Homo sapiens: one gene and its partner. Each later gene encodes a partner of the first gene's protein in a complex. Each region holds a gene or a part of one and is shown in the gene's direction. Other genes may lie near its edges.

Evidence for each region.
Region 2: the proteins of LRRC7 (region 1) and CAMK2A are in contact, whole or in part, in a crystal structure (PDB 6X5G), measured with the Homo sapiens proteins. Residues at the interface, in NP_001357714.1 of Homo sapiens: His843, Gly844, Arg845, Arg846, Pro847, Leu848, Ile849, Arg850, Gln851, Asp852, Arg853, Ile854, Val855; in NP_001350919.1 of Homo sapiens: Glu96, Phe98, Glu99, Ile101, Val102, Lys137, Glu139, Leu159, Phe173, Ala174, Gly175, Thr176, Pro177, Gly178, Tyr179, Leu180, Ile205, Gly209, Tyr210, Pro211, Pro212, Phe213, Trp214, Tyr222, Gln224, Pro233, Glu236.

Annotation. Positions count from the first base shown.
Region 1 is NC_000001.11:69,568,802-69,579,067, forward strand, and holds part of LRRC7 (leucine-rich repeat-containing protein 7), read left to right. Parts: exon of another isoform or gene 1-14; coding exon of another isoform or gene 15-19; intron 20-539; exon of another isoform or gene 540-644; coding exon of another isoform or gene 645-703; intron 704-10,266.
Region 2 is NC_000005.10:150,243,302-150,253,567, reverse strand, and holds part of CAMK2A (calcium/calmodulin-dependent protein kinase type II subunit alpha), read left to right. Parts: intron 1-21; coding exon 22-124; intron 125-1,502; coding exon 1,503-1,586; intron 1,587-1,723; coding exon 1,724-1,818; intron 1,819-2,757; coding exon 2,758-2,880; intron 2,881-3,258; coding exon 3,259-3,342; intron 3,343-5,753; coding exon 5,754-5,796; intron 5,797-8,366; coding exon 8,367-8,407; intron 8,408-10,266. UniProt on the Homo sapiens protein: Calcium/calmodulin-dependent protein kinase that functions autonomously after Ca(2+)/calmodulin-binding and autophosphorylation, and is involved in various processes, such as synaptic plasticity, neurotransmitter release and long-term potentiation.

The DNA of each region.
Region 1 (10,266 bases):
GGGAGGCGGCGAAGATGTGGTAGGTTGCAGAGCATTTGGAAATGGGGTGCTAACTGGGCGGGTGCATGGGAGCACCGAGTAGCTTGAGCTGGCAAGAGACCTTAAAGGGTTACATACTGCGAAAAGGAAAGGTAAATGTTGGGCGCTGGTGCTGGGACCATTGGTTCCGCTGAAATTAGGTTTAGCTCCTCGTTATTATCTTGGGTATCTCCAGTCAGCTTTTTTCCCAGAGGTGTCTGAGGGATGAAGCGCGTGTTTGATCGTGACACACACACACACACACTCACACACACTTGTGGCAGGACGCACTTGTCTCTTTATCTTGGAAGGTGTTGTATCAATGTCTCGATGTCTGTTTGAAAAAATACAATTAGAAGATTTTTATGTGATTGGGATTGAAGGGAAAGGGTGGGGTTTGGGGGGATGGAGGGGACGAAGGAACATGAAAGACTGGAGGACGGAAAGAAGTGGGGGAGCGTGTTCCCTGGGAGTCAGGGAGAACCTTGCCTCCCTCCCTGTCAGCTAGACAACTCCTGCCCACACATCTCCTTTGTGTGGCACGAGAAGCTGGTGAACCTGCCTATTCCCAATCCAGCGCTGGGTCCCCTTGAGGATCTTGCGTCCTCCTCTCCGAGTTATTAAGGATGCAGGACGTGTTTCGGATTCGACGTGGAAAGAGGGAGGGAAGCACATTAGCATTAAGGTAATCATGGCACCCTGGCTCGTGGACTATTAGATTGGCTACCAGTGGTCTCTAATCTTACTGTTTGCAGAGTCAAGAATGGGGGCGGGGGTTGGGGGACTGTATAGATTGCCTTTTAAAATAGTGTGACTTCATAATAACGGAGATGGCTGAAAGATTGCTTCCTTACACTACTTCTCGGCCATCAGGGCTGAATAAAGGACCCGCCTCCGCCCTCTACTCCGGCTCTTCTCTGGCTGTCTCTTCCCCATCAAGTCATAAAGCGAGCGGGTTGGGCGAGAGGGCACAGCTCGAGGCAGAGAAGAGACGGGGTCACTTTCACAACTCCCAGGAATCGGCTTCAGAAAGGAACCATCTGCGACTCCCACGTTCCTTTCGAAGTTCTCCTTCAAAAGGAATTACAAAAAAAAAAAAAAAAAAAAAAGCGATGGGGGTGGGGATCGGTAAGACACAGGGGTCCTCCCCCTGCTCTTTTCAATTACTTTCCCAATACTCTTTCAACACATCGAATTTACCTGCAGTGGTAACTGGGTCAGCAGGTAAATAGATTTGTATCTGTATATGTCGAAATGTGGCTCTCCTGGTGGATGAAAAGCAATTTTTTGTGAGCATATTCTAACCTAGGCGAAATTTCTAAGCACAATAGAGATTTTTATAGCGTGGGCGAGAAGAGTGCATTCCAGCGAAAGCAGGACACGTGATCCCTCCAACGGGTGAGATACAGTATTAGGAACTCGATTTTCTTTGTTCCAGCCTGAGCCTATGAGATGTTCAGCATCCTGGTTGCTTAAGTCCTCCTATAGAAGGAAAATAATAATAATAATAATAATAAAGTTGATCGGAGGCGAAATAGAGGGAAAATAAGCACAGGTAGACATGCGTGAACGGTTTGAAAGCTTCGCCTCTGCCTTTTTTTACCGCCCACCCTTCACCCCCACCCCTTGCTCCAGCCAGCCCCCTATTTTAAAATGAGGCATTTCCTCTGGGAGACGGTGGAAAAGTTCTCCAGCCCCTGCACACGTGGGTTCTCCAGCACTTCAGAACCTGCTGTGATTCGCAACAGATTACACCACCTTCCCAGTCCAAGTGTCACGCCTCCGTCCAGGCTTCCTTGAATTGGCTTCCAGGAAGGACTCTAAGGGAACTACCACGAGGTGTTTTTTGTTTGTTTGTTGTTTTTTGTTTGTTTGTTTTTACAAAAGACAGTAAAGCAATGAAGTCTTTACTTTTTAGAAATCATTGATTGCACAGGGGGAAAAATGAGCAAATAGGGATGTAGGAATGATTTTATGTTTCCTTAAGAGTCATATGGCTAAAGTATATTGGGGGTGTGTTTAGTGATTGAGTTTGGACTTCTGAGGTGTCTCAGGCCTGTGGAAAATGTCCTGAGGTCAGAATATTTATTAATTTAGTGGAGATATAACTTGTTTATGACCCAACATTTAGAGTTACCTGACTTGGAGATTTCTTATTTCATTTTCACTTAATGTTTTATAATCCATCTTAGTAGGCTAAAGTTTTTAAAAGGTGGTTTATTTATGTGTTATGCTGCATTGCATCATACTAATATGTAATGATAAGAAAAACAGTCAATTTTCATGACTTATTATGAGGTGAGAGTTCTTTATACATTTTTAAGAAAAAACTGACTATCCAAGAAAAAATGTGTACTTACCATGGCCAACACATAAATTCTACATCACTTGTGTCTGCACATATGCAGCTTAGAATTAGAAACAACTTCATAAAGAAACCTGGTCCAGTTGCAGTAGCCATGTTTTATTCAGAATTTTAGTGCAGCTTTAGGCTGTCATTAACATTTTCCCAATTAAATTCTTATTCCACTTTCTTTTTTAAGCTTTTAATTTTTCTAATTCCCTTATAAAATACAGAACATAAGCTTAAAGTGTTTTTGTGCATCTGCATTTTTGTTTTCTTTGGATTTCAAAAAATCACGAAGATATAAATTAATATGAATGTTATTGCTTATGAAAGTAATAAACTATATTATCTATATGATGTTCATTCCAGTGGTACTTGTAGATCTCTCTTATTTCAGCATATAGTACATGATTAAATATTTGATACAAAAACTTGGTCTTGTTAATCACAACTTTAAAACATTCACTTTTTAGAACAGATAAAATATTGATGTTAGGTTTTAATTGATGTATCAAAATTACACTTAGAGATACTAAAATTTTATTTGCTGAATGACTGTGGCCCCAATATAAGAAGGAATCACACATTCCACGAGATTATAACTTCATTGCTTACTCAGATTAACCGACTACACGAAGAGTAACCAATTATTGATGAATTATCATCTGAATTATTTATGGATTCTTATTACATTTTCTTTCTTCACACAAATTATTTCATAGTTTTTTGAAAAAATTATTTCAAACATATATGCTGTTGAACACAGTAGTTATAATAGCCACACTACCACTGAAAGACATTATTTGGTGTATTTTGTTGTCTCTAATAACAGTGACTACTTTGCAGAGTATCATCCACATTCTTTTTTGGAGCCATGTAAATTTGCAAGATGACTTTAGGGGAATGTTAATTCAAATCTGTGACATATAACAGACTTTTAGTTTATGACAAGCCGAGTTACCATTAACTAATTTTTATTGCCACGGAAAGATATCATTGGAGATGACTCTAGGCTCTTTGGAGAATGTTGAAGTTTTCACTCTGAATTTCTTTAATTTAGCAGTCAACATCAGTCTTCAATAGAGAGTTTTCAATGTTTCAATATTAAGAAATAAAATTTTAATATAAAGATAGCAATTTAAACCTATAATGAAGCAAATTATATTATATTCTGATGGAACAAAAAAGCAAATTATATAAGCTATTGTAATTAAATCAAATACCTAAATCAAAAGAAGGAGATTCATAGACAGGCTTCACATATGTTTTAAAAAACTTATTTGTGAATTGTCAATAAAAACTCAGAATGAAAAGTGGCACTATAAATCAACAATGTTTGAATGATGGTTGCCACAAATCAATAGTATTTTTTCTTTATGTGGCTTTTAACCATGTTATTTATGTGACTCAGGTTTGAATCATTAGAAATAATTACATTTTTATAGAAACAACTGTAGAGTATTACCCTGAGATAGTGAAAGAGGAGTAAGAAAAACTTAGGTATGTCTAGAAGTAATATGCAATCTTAGGTAATACATCTCTTTTAACAAGATAAAATAGAGGTGGCAATAATTACTATTTTATAACTGCAGGACATACCAAAGAAGACAAAGGGGTACATGAAATGTGGTTTGGAAATTTTAGAAGAGTGAAGTATAAACTTTTTTGTATAGATTAGTTTTTCTGTAGTAATGTGTGTGTGGGGTATGTGTGTGTGTGGTTCTGTTTAGTGATAGCATAGTATAATTATGTATATTATATAATGGTGTAATTAAAAGCATGCCATTTAAATAATCAAATATGTCTATTTCCTATCTCAAAAAAAGTGAATATGCTCAGAAATCCATGAACATCACTTGTCATACTGCCTCCCCTACCATAGTACCTGAACTGTAATCATAATTATAATAAGTTACTGCTTGCTAAACTCCTACCATGAGTCATGTGCTTTACTTCAAAATAATCCTACAGGAAGCATGATTCTCACTGTTTTGAAGATTAGAAAACTGAAACTCAGAGACAGCAAGTGGCAAATCCATGCCACGTGGAAAGTGATGGGCCAAGATTTAAGCCCAGATTTGGCCCCTGTTCATTTTTCCCCATTCTGTGCTCTCTTCTTCATGGCATAAATTGAAGTTCGGTAAATAACTTAAATCTGTAGATTATGGAAGTTTTTCCTGGTGTACAAAGAAAGATTAAGATTTTGAACCAGCTTTTGAAAGCTGTATATTTGGTGATAATACACCCTATTATTTTTGGACTATTATTTAATGTAGGTATAGAAAATACTGTTGCTTATTATCTTGGAATAATTCATTCACGACAGAAATTTAATAATCTAGTAGAATCTGTCATATAAAAGTACATTATGGAAGTTTTCAATAAAGCAAATTTTGAGTCAATAGCTGTCATGTCTATTTTGAAACTATGATGATGCACTTGATAATTAAGCCCCTGGGGAGGCATCATATATGCTAATTAAATTATTATTCATAATAGAAACATTATCATTTGTCATTCAAAGACATGGGAAAAATATTAAATACATTAATAACCCAAAGGATTTCCTGTGTACACTCATTCTCATTTTATTGTTCATTGCTTAATAAACTACTTAAAATCTCTATACAAAATATTATTTTACTTCAATACACGTGAAAGAAATAGTAGTTGTCAGGGATGAAGCATTGAAATGTCTATTAACATTGACATGATGTGTTTAAATATTTTAACAATGGAGCAGTTGTTTACATTGTTTAAATAATTCATTTATAGGCTTCTTAAAGATGCAGTTTCTTCAGTTGTGCCAGGATATTTTTGCTGTACACGAAGTTCAGTAAGGTTGAAAGCATACTTAACACAAGGGGATAGGTATGCCCAAGGTAGTATCATAACAAATGGCTTAAGTTAAAAACAGTGGAACTCTAGGATACTTGTGTGTGTGGCGGGGTGGGTCAGATGAGGGAGATATTTAAATGTTGTAGTACTCAAGAGGTAAAGTAGTATGAGAACAAGTGAGAAGCTATTGATTTCAATTATAGAAAAGAGGTAGCTGACCTTAAAACAAAACAATAGCATAAATACTATCATTATCATCATGAAATTTTCATAGGTAAAAAGAAATGGTATTGTGAAAAGCAGAAAAACAGAGCTAACAGAGGAAAATATGGGACAAACAATTGGAAAAGAGCTGCTAGACAAGTCACTGAGAAACTACAGGATTTTATGTTATTATATTGAAAAAGATAAGAATACTCTGGTGTAGTGGCAAAATACTTTATAGATGCTTGGCTGTATTGTCAATTTATTCAATACTGGAAGGAAAGGTAAGAAATGAACTTTATTAAGATAGTGCCTAAGTATTATGAAGACATTTGTTGCACTAAAAAGGTAGGTAATGGACACAAAGCTAAAATATGCCAGCTGAACTTAAAGAATTAATATGTCACAGATGGCGTAACTAAAACAATTAAAAATTGCAAATAATAGACTTATAAATACTAACTACTTAAGTGTTCTGCATCAAAAGTATTCATCATTGCAGTTCTTACCACCAGTAGGCACCTTACAGAATCATGTTGGATGGAAATATACCTTGGACCACATATTTTGAGCACTCATAAAATTAAATAGTTACTATCCGGTGTTCTTCTGATCAGTGTAATTCAAGACATGAAAAAAATTTCTTCCCTATATCAAGTGTGATTAATTTATTAAGACAATTATAAAAGCTATTGTAATTAAATCAAATACCTAGTTAAACTTAGAGTGAGTGTTAAATATTAGCGAAGTCCTTAGGCTAATATCGTATTGTTGAACACTGGGCACACCACACACATACACATACAGCTGTAATTGTTCTATTTCACAACACATATGCACACACAAACATAGCTGTAATCTTACTATTTCAGGAGTTTATAACACTTCAGAGCTGGAAAGGAATTTAGAGGGTCTCATTTTATAAAAAGAAGAAACTGAGGCCCCACTAAGTATACTTTCTTGCTGAGGGTCATCCAACTGTTAATGGGAGAAATAGCAATAAAATCAGGTCTTGTAGCTCCCACTGTCTGCCAGTAAAACCACACCCTTGGAACTACTGGGGTCTCTTACACCCGAGCAAAGTAGAAGAGAGAAAGGAATCTTAATTCAATAGATCCAATTAATATAGCTAGCCAATTTGATGACACTATCCAAAAAGCATTTCTTTTTCATTGAATTTTTGGCCTGAATTTCAATCTGAGTTTAATTTTTGGTCTTAATTATGCCCTGAGTTTTTATTTGGCTTAAGCATTTTGGACAATTGCCTTATCCTCCACTTTGACTTGACTGTCTAGGCAGACTCCTATGCTATAAATTTAACATCTGTTAAGTATTCTATTTTTAAAATATCTTTATTTAAGAAATGTGGAATTAATTTTCACTAATATTGAAGCACTCTAAATTTGGATACTATATCCTTTCTTAAAACATTAAAATTAAAATGTTCTTTTTAAATCATTGATCTTTTTAGGATAATGCCAGCTAAATGAATGTTGGATGATGAAGAAATGTTCAATTCATTTTAAATAAATAAATTATCTTCTAAATTTGCTAATTTTATTAGGGGTCAACCAATAAGTTTTCTCACCAAAAAACAAGGAGGACTTTAAGTGCTGTTAGGGCTTTCTATAAACTATTACTTCAAATATGAATTAGGAAACCATTCTAATCAGGAAAATAAAATACAATACAGTTGGAATTTGTAAAACAGACTCATTTCTGAGAAGTTTTTTGCATTATTAAGTTACATTTTGGGCTGGGTGACTGTAATCCAGCACTTTGGGAGGTTGAGGTGGGGTGATTGTTTGAGTTCAGGAGTGTGAGACCAACTTGGGCAATATAGTGAGATGTTGTATCTACTTTTTTTTTTTTAAGTAGCCAAGAGTGGTGGTGCTCACCTGTAGTCCCACCTACTCAGGAGGCTGAGGTGGGAAGATTGCTTTAGCTTAGGAGGCAGAGGTTGCAGTGAGTTGAGATCACACTACTGTACTCCAGGCTGGGTGACAGAGTGACACTCTGAAAAAAAAAAAAGTTACTTTGGAAGGTCCTTTAAATAGTAAGATCCTTCCTTCTTCTAAATATCTGGTTAAACATCTGTTATGACTTAGTTCTTCTGTTACAAGACAAATTTGAAATAAACGTTTCATTTATATTTTTTCTAATGCTAAAATTCTTAGTCCACCATATCTAGAAGCTTTGATTGCAGGTAAATTTAAGGCAAGATGTTTTATAACCCACCAGCAAACCATATTAGCAATGATTATAAAGCATTTTTGAAATTATGAGATTAAAGCTCTTAAAATATGTATTTGGGTTGTAAACAATGAAATGTAGAAATATTTACAAAGAATATCTGATTAAACAAGATATCTACATACATACACAGTCCCATCTAATAACCCTTTTTAAAAGACATAACTCCTTATTAAGGAAATAATGTTTTAAATTGAAGAAACACCATGATGACTAAATTAATGCATCACATATCAGCACATTAGCTATGCTTTTCATTTGTAAAATGGTTCTTATTCATGCCAGCTTTCAGTGTACTGTTCAGAGGCTCGTGGGTGTGATGGAACAGAACATATTTCTGCATCTGTGAATGTAATCCCACACACCATTTTACATGACAAAATCTGAATGTCCTAAGTCTAGGTGTTAACAGTAATACGAGATGTCAACCTCTCCCAGTCCAGGGTTTGAATTATTCCAAAATAATACCTGTTTTATCTTTTGCACTATCTAATTTTATTTAATGAGCGGTTATTTACACACGTAATATAAGGAGGATGGACGTTTTTTGTTTGTTTACTCGCTTTTTCTGCCTCGTCTCGTCATATCTAAGATTTGCTTCCTGCAGACAAAAAGCAAGCCACTGAAACTCAAACACAGTAGACATCAATGTGGGACGTGAACACAGGGGACTGGATACAAAGATGATGTGCTTTTGTACTTTGGTACAAGAAGAAACTACTAGAACTGTTATGCATGTTTAAGTTCCATATAAAAATCATAGGTAAACTTACCCATAATTTATATAAAGGAATATGTTGTTAATCTCCTTCCCCCTCTTCCCTAGTAGAATTTCTTTGTATAATCATGTGTGAAAAATAGATAGAAATGCATGAAAATCTGATGGTAGTTTCTTTTGCTGTGCAGAAGCTCTTTAGTTTAATTAGATCCCATTTGTCAATTTTGGCTTTTGTTGCCATTGCTTTTGGTGTTTTAGACAGCAAGTCCTTGCCCATGCCTATGTCCTGAATGGTATTGCCTAGGTTTTCTTCTAGGGTTTTTATGGTTGTAGGTCTAACGTTTAAGTCTTTAATCCATCTGGAATTAATTTTTGTATAAGGTGTAAGGAAGGGATCCAGTTTCAGCTTTCTACATATGGCTAGCCAGTTTTCCCAGCACCATTTATTAAATAGGGAATCCTTTCCCCATTGCTTGTTTTTCTCAGGTTTGTCAAAGATCAGATAGTTGTAGATATGCAGTGTTATTTCTGAGGGCTCTGTTCTGTTCCATTGATCTATATCTCTGTTTTGGTACCAATGCCATGCTGTTTTGGTTACTGTAGCCTTGTAGTATAGTTTGAAGTCAGGTAGCGTGATGCCTCCAGCTTTCTTCTTTTGGCTTAGGATTGCCTTGGCGATGCGGGCTCTTTTTTGGTTCCATATGAACTTTAAAGTAGTTTTTTCCAATTCTTTGAAGAAAGTCATTGGTAGCTTGATGGGGATAGCATTGAATCTATAAATTACCTTGGGCATTATGGCCATTTTCATGATATTGATTCTTCCTACCCTACAAAATGGGAGAAAATTTTCACAACCTACTCATCTGACAAAGGGCTAATATCCAGAATCTACAATGAACTCAAACAAATTCACAAGAAAAAAGCAAACAACCCCATCAAAAAGGGGGCGAAGGACATGAACAGACACTTCTCAAAAGAAGACCTTTATGCAGCCAAAAAACACGTGAAAAAATGCTCACCATCACTGGCCATCAGAGAAATGCAAATCAAAACCACAATGAGATACCATCTCACACCAGTTAGAATGGCAATCATTAAAAAGTCAGGAATCAACAGGTGCTGGAGAGGATGTGGAGAAATAGGAACACTTTTACACTGTTGGTGGGACTGTAAACTAGTTCAACCCTTGTGGAAGTCAGTGTGGCGATTCCTCAGGGATCTAGAACTAGAAATACCATTTGACCCAGCCATCCCATTACTGGGTATATACCCAAAGGACTATAAATCATGCTGCTATAAAGACACATGCACACGTATGTTTATTGCGGCACTATTCACAATAGCAAAGACTTGGAACCAACCCAAATGTCCAACAATGATAGACTGGATTAAGAAAATGTGGCACATATACACCATGGAATACTATGCGGCCATAAAAAATAATGAGTTCATGTCCTTTGTAGGGACATGGATGAAATTGGAAATCATCATTCTCAGTAAACTATCACAAGAACAAAAAACCAAACACCACATATTCTCAGTCATAGGTGTGAATTGAACAATGAGAACACATGGACACAGGAAGGGGAACATCACACTCTGGGGACTGTTGTGGGGTGGGGGGAGGGGGGAGGGATAGCATTAGGAGATATACCTAATGCTAAATGACGAGTTAATGGGTGCAGCACACCAGCATGGCACATGTATACATATGTAACCTGCACATTGTGCACATGTACCCTAAAACTTAAAGTATAATAATAATAAAATAAAATAAAATAAAAAGAAATGCATGGAAAAAAAAGTTGTATTTTAGTCCTGGTAATATGGATGAATACTTCCTTGTTTTAAATGCCACTTAATGGTTTTAATATTATTGCTTAACAAT
Region 2 (10,266 bases), on another chromosome or scaffold:
CTCTTCTCTGGTCCTGACAAGCCTGAGAATCTGTTGCTGGCCTCCAAGCTCAAGGGTGCCGCAGTGAAGCTGGCAGACTTTGGCCTGGCCATAGAGGTGGAGGGGGAGCAGCAGGCATGGTTTGGTAAGTGGGGTGGGCTGGCAGAAGTGTTGGGGGTCAGCACCCATTTGTGTTGACACATAAGCCTCTGGGAACCCCCTGCCTGAGTGGGTATGGCTGGAGATGCTGTTGGGCCAGCCGGGGCTGGTAGAGCAGAGGCCCTGTCCCACCCAGCCTCTGAGCCAGTGGGCAGCACCTATCTGTGTCCCCAGGGTTCAGGCATGGGACCCTACGGCCTTCCACAGGGCTCCCTGGGGCCCCCTCTCTCCTTTCCTGTCACTCCCCTCCGCCATCTCTCCTCCCCAAAGGGCTCCCTGTGGTTGAAGGCCTTAGGGAAGTTTCCACAGAGCTGCCCTAATAGTCTAGGTGCTTGAGATTATTATCCTGATTTTATAGATGAGGAAAAAACTGGCAGAAAACTTGCAGAAGGTCAAGAAAGTTTAAAAGGGATAGACCAGGACTTAACTCAGATGATCCAGCCTGCTTTGTGATTTTGGTATAACTGGGTCTCTTTAAGCTACCTGGGAGTACTTTTTAGTGGGCAATATTGAGCCATGGTTAAGAACCAGAGTTCTGGGTTCAAATCCCGACTCTGCTACTTATGAGGTATGTGACTTTGGCTAAGTCACTTCACCTCTCTGTGCCTTCGTTCCTCATCTGTAAAATGGGAATAATAATTGTGTGTCCCTCAGGAGTGGTGTCAGAATTAAATGTGACCAGGCATATGAAGTGCTCAGCCCAATGCTTAGCATACACACTCGGTAACTTGTAAGTGTTCTTAAAAGTGCTTGTTAGAATACCTCAGGTGTCCATTATTTGAACTGACCGGCTCAACAACCCTGGGAGGCACTTAAGATAGGAATCCCTAATCCTTCATTTGACAGATGAGGAAACAAGGACTAGAAGATAAAGAGACGTACCCAAGGGGCAAAGTCAGTTAGGACAGGCCTCCCGACATCCCATGACCAACTCCAACAAGGGGGTGCAGAGTGGGCTTAGCTCTCAGCCTGGGGCTGACATGGCAGGTGCATTTCATCTTGAAGCCACCAGCAATGGATCACTAGTGGCTCCTGGAAGAGTGGTGCTGAGAAGCTTATGATCCTGAGTCAGGACCCAGTAGGAAGGAGTTCTGTGGCTGATTACCACTGGCTCTGAAGTGGGAAGTGGTGACAGGTGTGCTAGGTAGTTGTCGATCTGATCTAGAGGCTTTGCTGGCTCATCAGGCTTATGTCTTGGGCCGACTGGGGTTGCACAATACAAGCCCAAGTGCACCTGAGGGGCAGGGGCTGTTTTCCTCAGCTCCAGAGCAATCCTCATCCCCTCTTCCAGCAGGATCTTGCTCCAGGTTACTTACGAGACAACCTCTGTGTATGTGTCTGCCTGTCTGTGTGTCTGGGAGCAGGGTTTGCAGGGACTCCTGGATATCTCTCCCCAGAAGTGCTGCGGAAGGACCCGTACGGGAAGCCTGTGGACCTGTGGGCTTGTGGTGAGTTCATCCTAAGGCCCTTTTGTGCCCCTGGCTGCACCCCGGCCTCTGGGGCCCCCTCTCTCCTTTCCCATCACTCCCCTCCCCCCATGTCTCCTCCCCACAGGGGGTTGAAGGTTCTCTGGTCCTCTTTCCAGGGGTCATCCTGTACATCCTGCTGGTTGGGTACCCCCCGTTCTGGGATGAGGACCAGCACCGCCTGTACCAGCAGATCAAAGCCGGCGCCTATGATGTGAGTGTCGCTCCTCTCTTCAGCTCCCATCATCCTCTGGTGCCCTTCCAGTGAAAGCCAGCGCCAAGCCACTCTCTAGTTCTGGCACAGGGGTGAACCCCAGGGGAGCATGAAGACTGACCAGGGCCAGGTGGTTACCATGCTGTGCCTAATGATTGGAGATTTATCTTGCCCCAGAAGGCAAGAAGCAGCACCAAAATGGAGTGAGGAGTAGGGGAGAGGCGCCTCCCAAGCCAGGGTTTCTCTGTTTCTCTCTCATATATACAAATAATAATAGCTAACAATTCTATAGCACTCTCTGAATGTTTTACACATATTATTACATTTAATCCTCACACCAATCTATGATATAGGTGCTGTTATTATTCCCATTTTACATATAGAGAAGCTGACATACAGAGAGGTCAAGTAACTGCCTAGATCACACAGCTAAGAAATGGTAGAGGTGGGATTTGAACCAGGCAGTCTGGCTCTACCATCCATGCTTCTAACTACCAAGCTATATTGCTTTTATGCAGATAGCTATTAAGCTCTGTGCCGTATGTTTTATATTGTATTTAATTCTCACAACATCTCTAGAGATAGCTCAAGAGGTCATGTGACTTACCCAGGTTACACAGCCCAGGAGGCAGAGCCAGGACTTGAATCCAGGCCTTTTGATTCTGAAGTCTGGGCTAAAGCCACTGACCGGCTGCTCTGCAAATAAGGCACAGTCTCAGAAAGATGGTTGGAGGGAGGCCTCCTTTCCCTCTGCCGTGTTCTGATTTGTATGGGGCTAGGGCCCTCCCCTGCAGTGAGGAGCCCCAACTCCTCCTGGTGTGGATGTCCGAGTGGATGGGCAGTAGGACCCCTGCCTGCTCCCCTGCCAGTCAGGGGCTGGGGGATCGCAGGGGTGGCCTGGGGCAGGCTGGGCAAACCTGGCCTCTCTGCCCCTTCCAGTTCCCATCGCCGGAATGGGACACTGTCACCCCGGAAGCCAAGGATCTGATCAATAAGATGCTGACCATTAACCCATCCAAACGCATCACAGCTGCCGAAGCCCTTAAGCACCCCTGGATCTCGGTGAGCCTTCCTCAGCAGGACTTCTCCCAGGAGCCCCTCCAGACCTCATGATCCAGGCCCCCACAGAGTTCTGGCCCTTCCCCTGGCCCATGGGGCCAAGAGGGCTTAATCCAAGAGACTGCCCCTGCTGTGGTTCTCAGGGGTAATGTGGAAACGAGGAGTGAGTGTTCTGGGTTGGCATACAACTGATGGTGCTACTGGCATTGAATGTCTGGTGCCAGGATGCTAAACACCCTGAAGCATCTCCTAGAGCAATGAATCGTTCTTCCCAAGATGTCAACCACACCTCCATTAAGATGCCCTGCTGAAGGGTACCCTTGGGTGGGCCTGTCTTCCAGCCTGCCTTCCACTCACAGCCCTCTCCCCTACTTCCTCCAGCACCGCTCCACCGTGGCATCCTGCATGCACAGACAGGAGACCGTGGACTGCCTGAAGAAGTTCAATGCCAGGAGGAAACTGAAGGTAACAGGTCCTCACCCTCCACAGTCCTGGCCATGGGACTAGCTCTGCCTGGGTCTCCACAGAGGCCAGGAGACTCGCTCACTAATTCTTTCCTTCATTGATTCAATAAGCATTTATTGAACACCTACTGCATACTGGACAGCAGGTTGGGCTTGGGGAGTGAGCGGTGAATGACTGAGCCCTTGCTCTAGTGGAGAGGACAGACAAGTTCCTGGGGCGTTATGGGGCAGTGGTGAGTGCCATGCCTGGGAAAGCCTCAAGATGGTGGCAGAATGCAGCAGGACAATGGTATTCTGGGTCTGGAGCCAGGGGCGTTTAAGCTGAGACCTTGGAGGATAAGCAGGTATTAGCCAAGTTAGAGTCAGAATGGGAAAGTGTGGCCGGGCGCAGTGACTCATGCCTGTAATCCCAACACTTTGGGAGGCTGAGGTGGGCAGATCACCTGAGGTCAGAAGTTCAAGACCAGCCTGGCCAATGAGGTGAAACCCTGTCTCTACCAAAAATACAAAAATTAGCCAGGCATGGTGGCACATACCTGTAATCCCAGCTACTCAGGAGGCTGAGGCAGGAAAATTGCTTGAACCTGGGAGGCGGAGGTTGCAGTGAGTGAGATCGTGCCATTGCACTCCAGCCTGAGTAACAGAGAGAGACTCTGTCTCAAAAAAAAAAAAACAAAAAAAAGAATGGGAACGTGTTCCAGACAGAGGAAGCAGCCTGTGCAGAAGTTTGGAAGTGCGCCTGACCCCTTAGGGGCACCACAAGTGGTTCAGAGTGGCTGGGGAGAGCTTTTGGGGGTGAGACATGACTGAACGTGAGACCCTGGTCAGGGAGGCGCCCCAGCTGCCCAGTACTGTGGAGGAATGGCTGAGGCACTCAGACAGTGATTGTGGCCCTGAGGAAGCTCAGTGGCACCCAGGTGGTCCCAGAGCTTCACACTCTTGCAGGTTCTGTGTGCTCTCAGGGTGGTGACAGCTCCTGGCCTGGCCTTTGCCAGGCACTGAGGGGCCCCTGGCCAGTGGAACAGAGGAGCCGTCAGCACGCTGGGGATGATGAGGGAAGAGGCGGAGGCCCCAGCTCTTGTGGAACCTCCTTATCTGCTGCTCCCAGGCCTGGAGTGGAGGCTTAGGATGGGGACACAGACCAAGGGGTGGTGGCCAGCATGATGCCAGGAGAACTGAGTCCCATCCCCATCCTGCAGTGGAAGCTGTGTCACAGAGGAAGTCTCAAAATATCAGAATCAGGGATTCTTAACATCATAAGCAGTGGGATTCAGACAGTGTCAAGTCAGGTCTGAATCAGATGGCTCTGGAACAAAAGGGGCCATTAGCCCCCAGCCTGCTTGTTGATGGAGGAGGCTTTCTCTACATTGAGAATCCTCCTGGGATTCAAAAGATTATAAATCATGGTGCTATAAAGACACATGCACACATATATTTATTGCGGCACTACTCACAATAGCAAAGACTTGGAACCAACCCAAATGTCCAACAATGATCGACTGGATTAAGAAAATGTGGCACATATACACCGTGGAATACTATGCAGCCATAAAAAATGATGAGTTCCTGTCCTTTGTAGGGACATGGATGAAGCTGGAAACCATCATTCTCAGCAAACTATCGCAAGGACAAAAAAACAAACAGCGCATGTTCTCACTCATGGATGGGAATTGAACAATGAGAACACTTGGACACAGGAAGGGGAACATCACACACCGGGGCCTGTTGTGGGGTGGGGGGAGGGGGGAGGGATAGCATTAGGAGATATACCTAATGTAAATGACGAGTTAATGGGTGCAGCACACCAACGTGGCACATGTATACATATGTAACAAACCTGCACGTTGTGCACATGTACCCTAGAACTTAAAGTATTATATAATATATATATATATATAAAATAAAAAACTTGGAAATAAAAAAAAAAAAGAGAAAATCCTCCTGGGATTCTCTGAGCCCAGGGGCCATGGAGGGATGAGCTAGTCCTGGAGCAAGATGCTCTCAGCACGGGGCAGAGGGCTAAGAGGTGGAGGGGTTGGGGGACACGAGGTCTGCTGTTGTTGCCCAAGCAAGAAAAGTCCATCATCTTCAGGAGCCTCTGCTGGTAGGTGTCCCTCAAGCTCTTCAGCTTGGGCGGGCCAAGGGGCCCATTAATATCTGCCCCTAGGACGGCCTTGTCCCAGGAGCTGTACTGGCTAAAGCCTAGCTCACCCCGACTTCTCCAGGGGGCGAGGGATGGGCTCTGGGCTGGGGTTGGGGTTGGGACAAATGGAGGGGCAGGGCAGAGGCTTTGGCTTCTTCTCTGAATGCAGCACCTGCCTCTCCTTCCCCGTGGCCCTCCCGTCTCTCTGTCCCTCCTGGGTCCCTTCACTCCGGCCTCCTCTCCCACTGCCCTCTTCTTATGTCTTGCAGGGAGCCATTCTCACCACGATGCTGGCCACCAGGAACTTCTCCGGTAGGTGGCAGGACCTCAGGGTCCCCAGTAAGCCCTGCACCAGTTCGTTGGGGGCACCGTCCTGTCAGATATTGGAGTGCCCCCAGGCCACTGGGCCTGGGGAGAGGGAGTTGTAGAGGACTCTGTGACTAAGGGCTTAGCTCACCTGCCACGGCCTGTACCCAGAAGTGAAGAGAGGTCAAAAGTCAGCAAGCCCAGGGCCCACCAGGACTGGTTACAGATTTAGTCTGGCTGCCCACTCCTACAGCAGTGCTGGGGTTCTCAGGCTGGGCCGCCTAGAGGGGAAGGCTTCTGATTGCAGGGGATTGAGTTCTAGATGGGGTGGAGCCAGGTCCAGGGAGTAACAATATTGCCCACCATGATTGGAGCCCTGTGCTAAGCAGTCCCGTGCTTCCACTCAGGTGGCCTACATGACAAGGCAGCAGAGGGGATGATGGGGGTGCTGCCATCCCTATTTCTGGGATGAGGAAGCAGAAGCTCAGGAAGGTGAGCTCTGACTTGTCCCAGGTCACATGGCTAGAGAGGCAGAGCCTGCATTCAGCACAGGTTTGACCAAACCCAGGGCAAGTGCCTTTAACTGGATTGGGTCACCAGTGAGTCCAGGGCAGGAGCGTCCCAGGCCCTTGGCCAAACTGGGCTGGTTAAGGCAGGGAGTGCCCAATCACCTGAGGCATGTGGCTTTGCAGAGAGAAGGGGAAGGGATTATTGTCAGGGTTTAGCAAGAAGCTCCTCTTGGCACATCAGAGAGGGCTGGGGCCAGTGCCCTCCAGAGGCTTCCTTCTGGGGAGCGCAGGCCGCTGGCAGGCAGTAGAGGAGATATAGATAGCAGATAGAGCAAAGCTCACCCGAGGGGCCCTCTGACTGGGGCTGGGGCCAGCCGAGAAAGCTGCTGCAGATTTGTGGCCAGCACCACAGCAAGAGGGCAGCTCTGAGAAGGGGGCAGCTGGCTGCATTGAGTGGGTCCACCTGCCCATGTAACCAGTTGGGAGGAGTGAGACCCAGAGGTGGGCAGATACTAGAACTTCTGACTGGGCTTTTCCTACCTCGTTAAACTGCCTTCCCACCCTCTCCCTGGACAAGGATCCTGCCATTCCGTAAACTGAAAGATGAGCTACCCAGATAGTCAGAGTCTTTTTTTAACAACTGAAGCACCCTAAAGAACTCTAGTCCTGAGCTCACAAAATGGCGGCCTGTGAGCTGGATTGAATCTCTTGATATGCTTTGTGGAGGTAGGGGTGTTTTAAAAATTTTTTTGAATGAGTTTCTAACACTTAAAAATTAGGAAATTTCATAGAAAACCCCAGATTGCTGTCGTCTCTTGAAAATTAGACGCTGTGGCCTCACTGGACCCACGATCCTGTGACAGTAGGCTGGAGCTGAGAGGGGCGTCTACCTTGAGGCTCGAGGAGAAAGCACTCCCCCTGCCCCACTGCACATCCTAGTCCAACCCTCCAAAGCCTGTGGTGAATGGACAGCCATTCCTGTCAGCTTCGGGATCCAGAGGTGGCCCCTGCCTTGGTTTGCAAGTAGGGAACTTGGAATGAGAGCCTCGAAGGGGTCATAGGTGGAAATGTGGGGGTGACTGGGAAGGTGACCTGCCATGAGCCCCATGCCTCAGAGCCCCTGGGGCATCAGTGGCTCATATGACCCTCCTCCCAACTCCCCCTCTCAAGGCCACCAGGAGAAGTCTTATCATGGCTACCATTTCCTGAGCATGTGCGGCTTATGGGTCAGGTGCTTTGCTAAGTACTTCACAGATACCTTGTTTCATTTAAGGTATTTGCTTAAGTCTGAAGCAGCCGGATGCCTGTGGGCAGGGCTGGACATTCAGGCCATTTCCTGGCTGATGCCCACTTCCAGGGCTCTGGCCAGGAGGTGAGGAGGGAGGTAAGGGGAAATGACAGCAGGGGAAGCCCCCAAAGAGCTGTTGCTCTGGTTGTCCCTGCCACCCGGGCCATAGCCAGTGCCAATATGGGGCTCTGGAGTCTGAGGTTGGGGAGGCCTATATGGCCTGAGGAGAGAGGCAGGGGATGGGTGCTCTGGCAGGGTGGGCCCCAGTGGGGGCATCTGCTTCTTGTCACTGGCAAGACGCAGCCTGCAGCTGTCCGGAGTGAGTAGGCAGGGCTGACACATGACCTCCGCAGCAGCATGGGGCTAAAATTAGAGAGGGCCAGGGTGGGGAGGGCGTGTCCAGCCTGGGGCCAGGCAGCCAGACCTCGGGTTGGCCACCGCCAGCACGGTGGTGACAGGGATTCAGAGGGAATCCCCGGGCTGAAACAGCAGCCCACAGTCCTGGGACATGTTGGACACCTCCCTCAACCCATGAAGCCAGAGGGTTACGCTTGAGATTGCTGAGAAGGCGGGGAACCCAGGCAGTCCCTGGGCCTCCAAGGAGGGAGGAGGAGGAGGAGGAGGAGGAGGAGGAGGAGGAGGCCTCCCCCAGGATCGCTGGGCCAGCTCTGCTCCCTGCAGTCTGCCCTCCGGCTGCGTGTGGATGCTGCTCGTCCTCGCCCTGTGGGCCCTGGTGCCCTGCCTGGCGTTGTTAACCCTCTACTTTTTCTCCTCCACAGGAGGGAAGAGTGGGGGAAACAAGAAGAGCGATGGTGTGAAGGTAAGCCCCTCCAGGAGCCTGGCAGGGCTTGGCTCTGGCAGCGTTTCTGCCAACAGAGACCGGCTTTCAGGCCTGGAGCAAGACCCGGGCCTTGCTGATGGTGTCCTGGGCAGACGTGGGCCACATTTGTGGCCAGGCTGTCTCCAGACCCACGACCTAGGCTTTGGTGCCCACCGTTGCGCCGTGACTGTTGGGGGGCAGATGGGAGAGGGGGGACTGGAGGAGGGTGGAAGTGACAGGTGTGCTGGGGTGGGGGCAGGCGCAAGGAAAGGGGCAGGTCAGAAGGAGATTTCTGTGGTTCTCCGAGGCTGGAGAGCTGGTGTGCAAGAGAGGGTGCAAGGAGAGGACAGAAATGGTCATGAGGGGTGACCTCCGTCCTGCCTATGTGTGGGCTGGATCGGGCCCCTGCCCCGCTGTACACCTTAGTTCCACCCAGAAAGCTCGTGGAGGATGGACAGCCATTCCTCTTGGCTTTGGGTTCCAAGGTGCCCCCTCCCGGCAAGGCTTGCTGGTGCTGGTTCAGTTCCAAAATCCCCTCCCGGCTCCAAGGGCCTGCCCTGTCCCACCCCTAGAGCCCGAGTTACCCTGTGGTCCCTCCACATCCTGCGGTCCTCCTTCCCGTCTCTTCTCTCTTCTCCCTCTGCTCTCTGGGGCCTGGTCCCCTGCTCTCTGCAGTTCCCTCCTCCTCTGCCACTCGATCTTATCCTCTCTTGAGACCCTGCCTTTTTCTGGGCTCAGAGCCCTGCCTGGCGAGGGCCCCAGGGCTGGGATGTGCCCAGGACATTGGAAGGTGTGGGATGCTGTATGAATACAGCCAGATGTGCTGGTGGCTTGATGGCTTTGTCTAAGGAGGCATTTATGGTCTCTGGCCGCTGGTTTTGGTCTGTCAAGGTTGCATGCGAGGGAGTCTGGGCTAGATGTCCAAGGCCAGGATTGGGTCTCCCCTCTGTACTTAGCCTTCTCCTCCCAGCTTGAATTTTCCCCTAAGTACAACGAGTGGGGTGTGGATTTGATGATCATTTCCAAGATTGCAGCTTTAAAAACAAACAAAAAAAGCAATAAAATCCTATCTAATCATTCTCCCTTCTCATCTTGGGTGCTAGAGGAATACATAATTATTTGGTTATTAGTCCAAGACAGTGGTTTTCAAATTGAACTCTTTAGATCCCAAAGGTACTGGACTGGGGAGGCACCTCTGGCAGCGGATGGGGTGCTGTGGGATGTGGAAGGGGGATGCCAGGTTAAATGGTTCTGGGCTTCTCATACCCACTTCAACCAGAGCATGATCATGGTGAAGAGAGCCCTTGGGCTTGCCTGCAGCTGGACCTCGGCTGGGTATTTATATTCCCTGAGCCTGCGCTTCTTCATTCATGCAATGAGGTTAAAAGAGATCTCCACCTCCTAAGCCTATTGGTGAGGATTAACTAATACAATGCGCCCTGAGAGCTTAGCAAGGTGCTGGTATGTAATACACACTCATGAGATGCTAGGCACTATTATCTTTCCTCTATTTTATGTATTAGACTTTTGGGTAAAATTTCTCTTGAAAACCAAGTTTTCTCAAGAATATTTGAAAACCACAGATCTAAAGCCAACTTAATTTATAAAGTTAACAGGCACTCATTCCAAATCCTGTAATGGAATCGGGCATTGAATTTTGGCTTGCCTGCTGTTTTGGGTTAACCCTGAGCCAACCCGCCATCCCTCTATGTGTAGGGGTAATAGAGGGATGTGCAATGTGGGAGCTGCCAGCTTTGGAGTAGCTGGGGCCCTCTCTGACCCCTGTGTGGAGACGCTGAGCTAGGGGTGCTGGGCGCCCTGGGGAAAGCAGACTTCCTGGTTCCGATTTGGGGGATGTG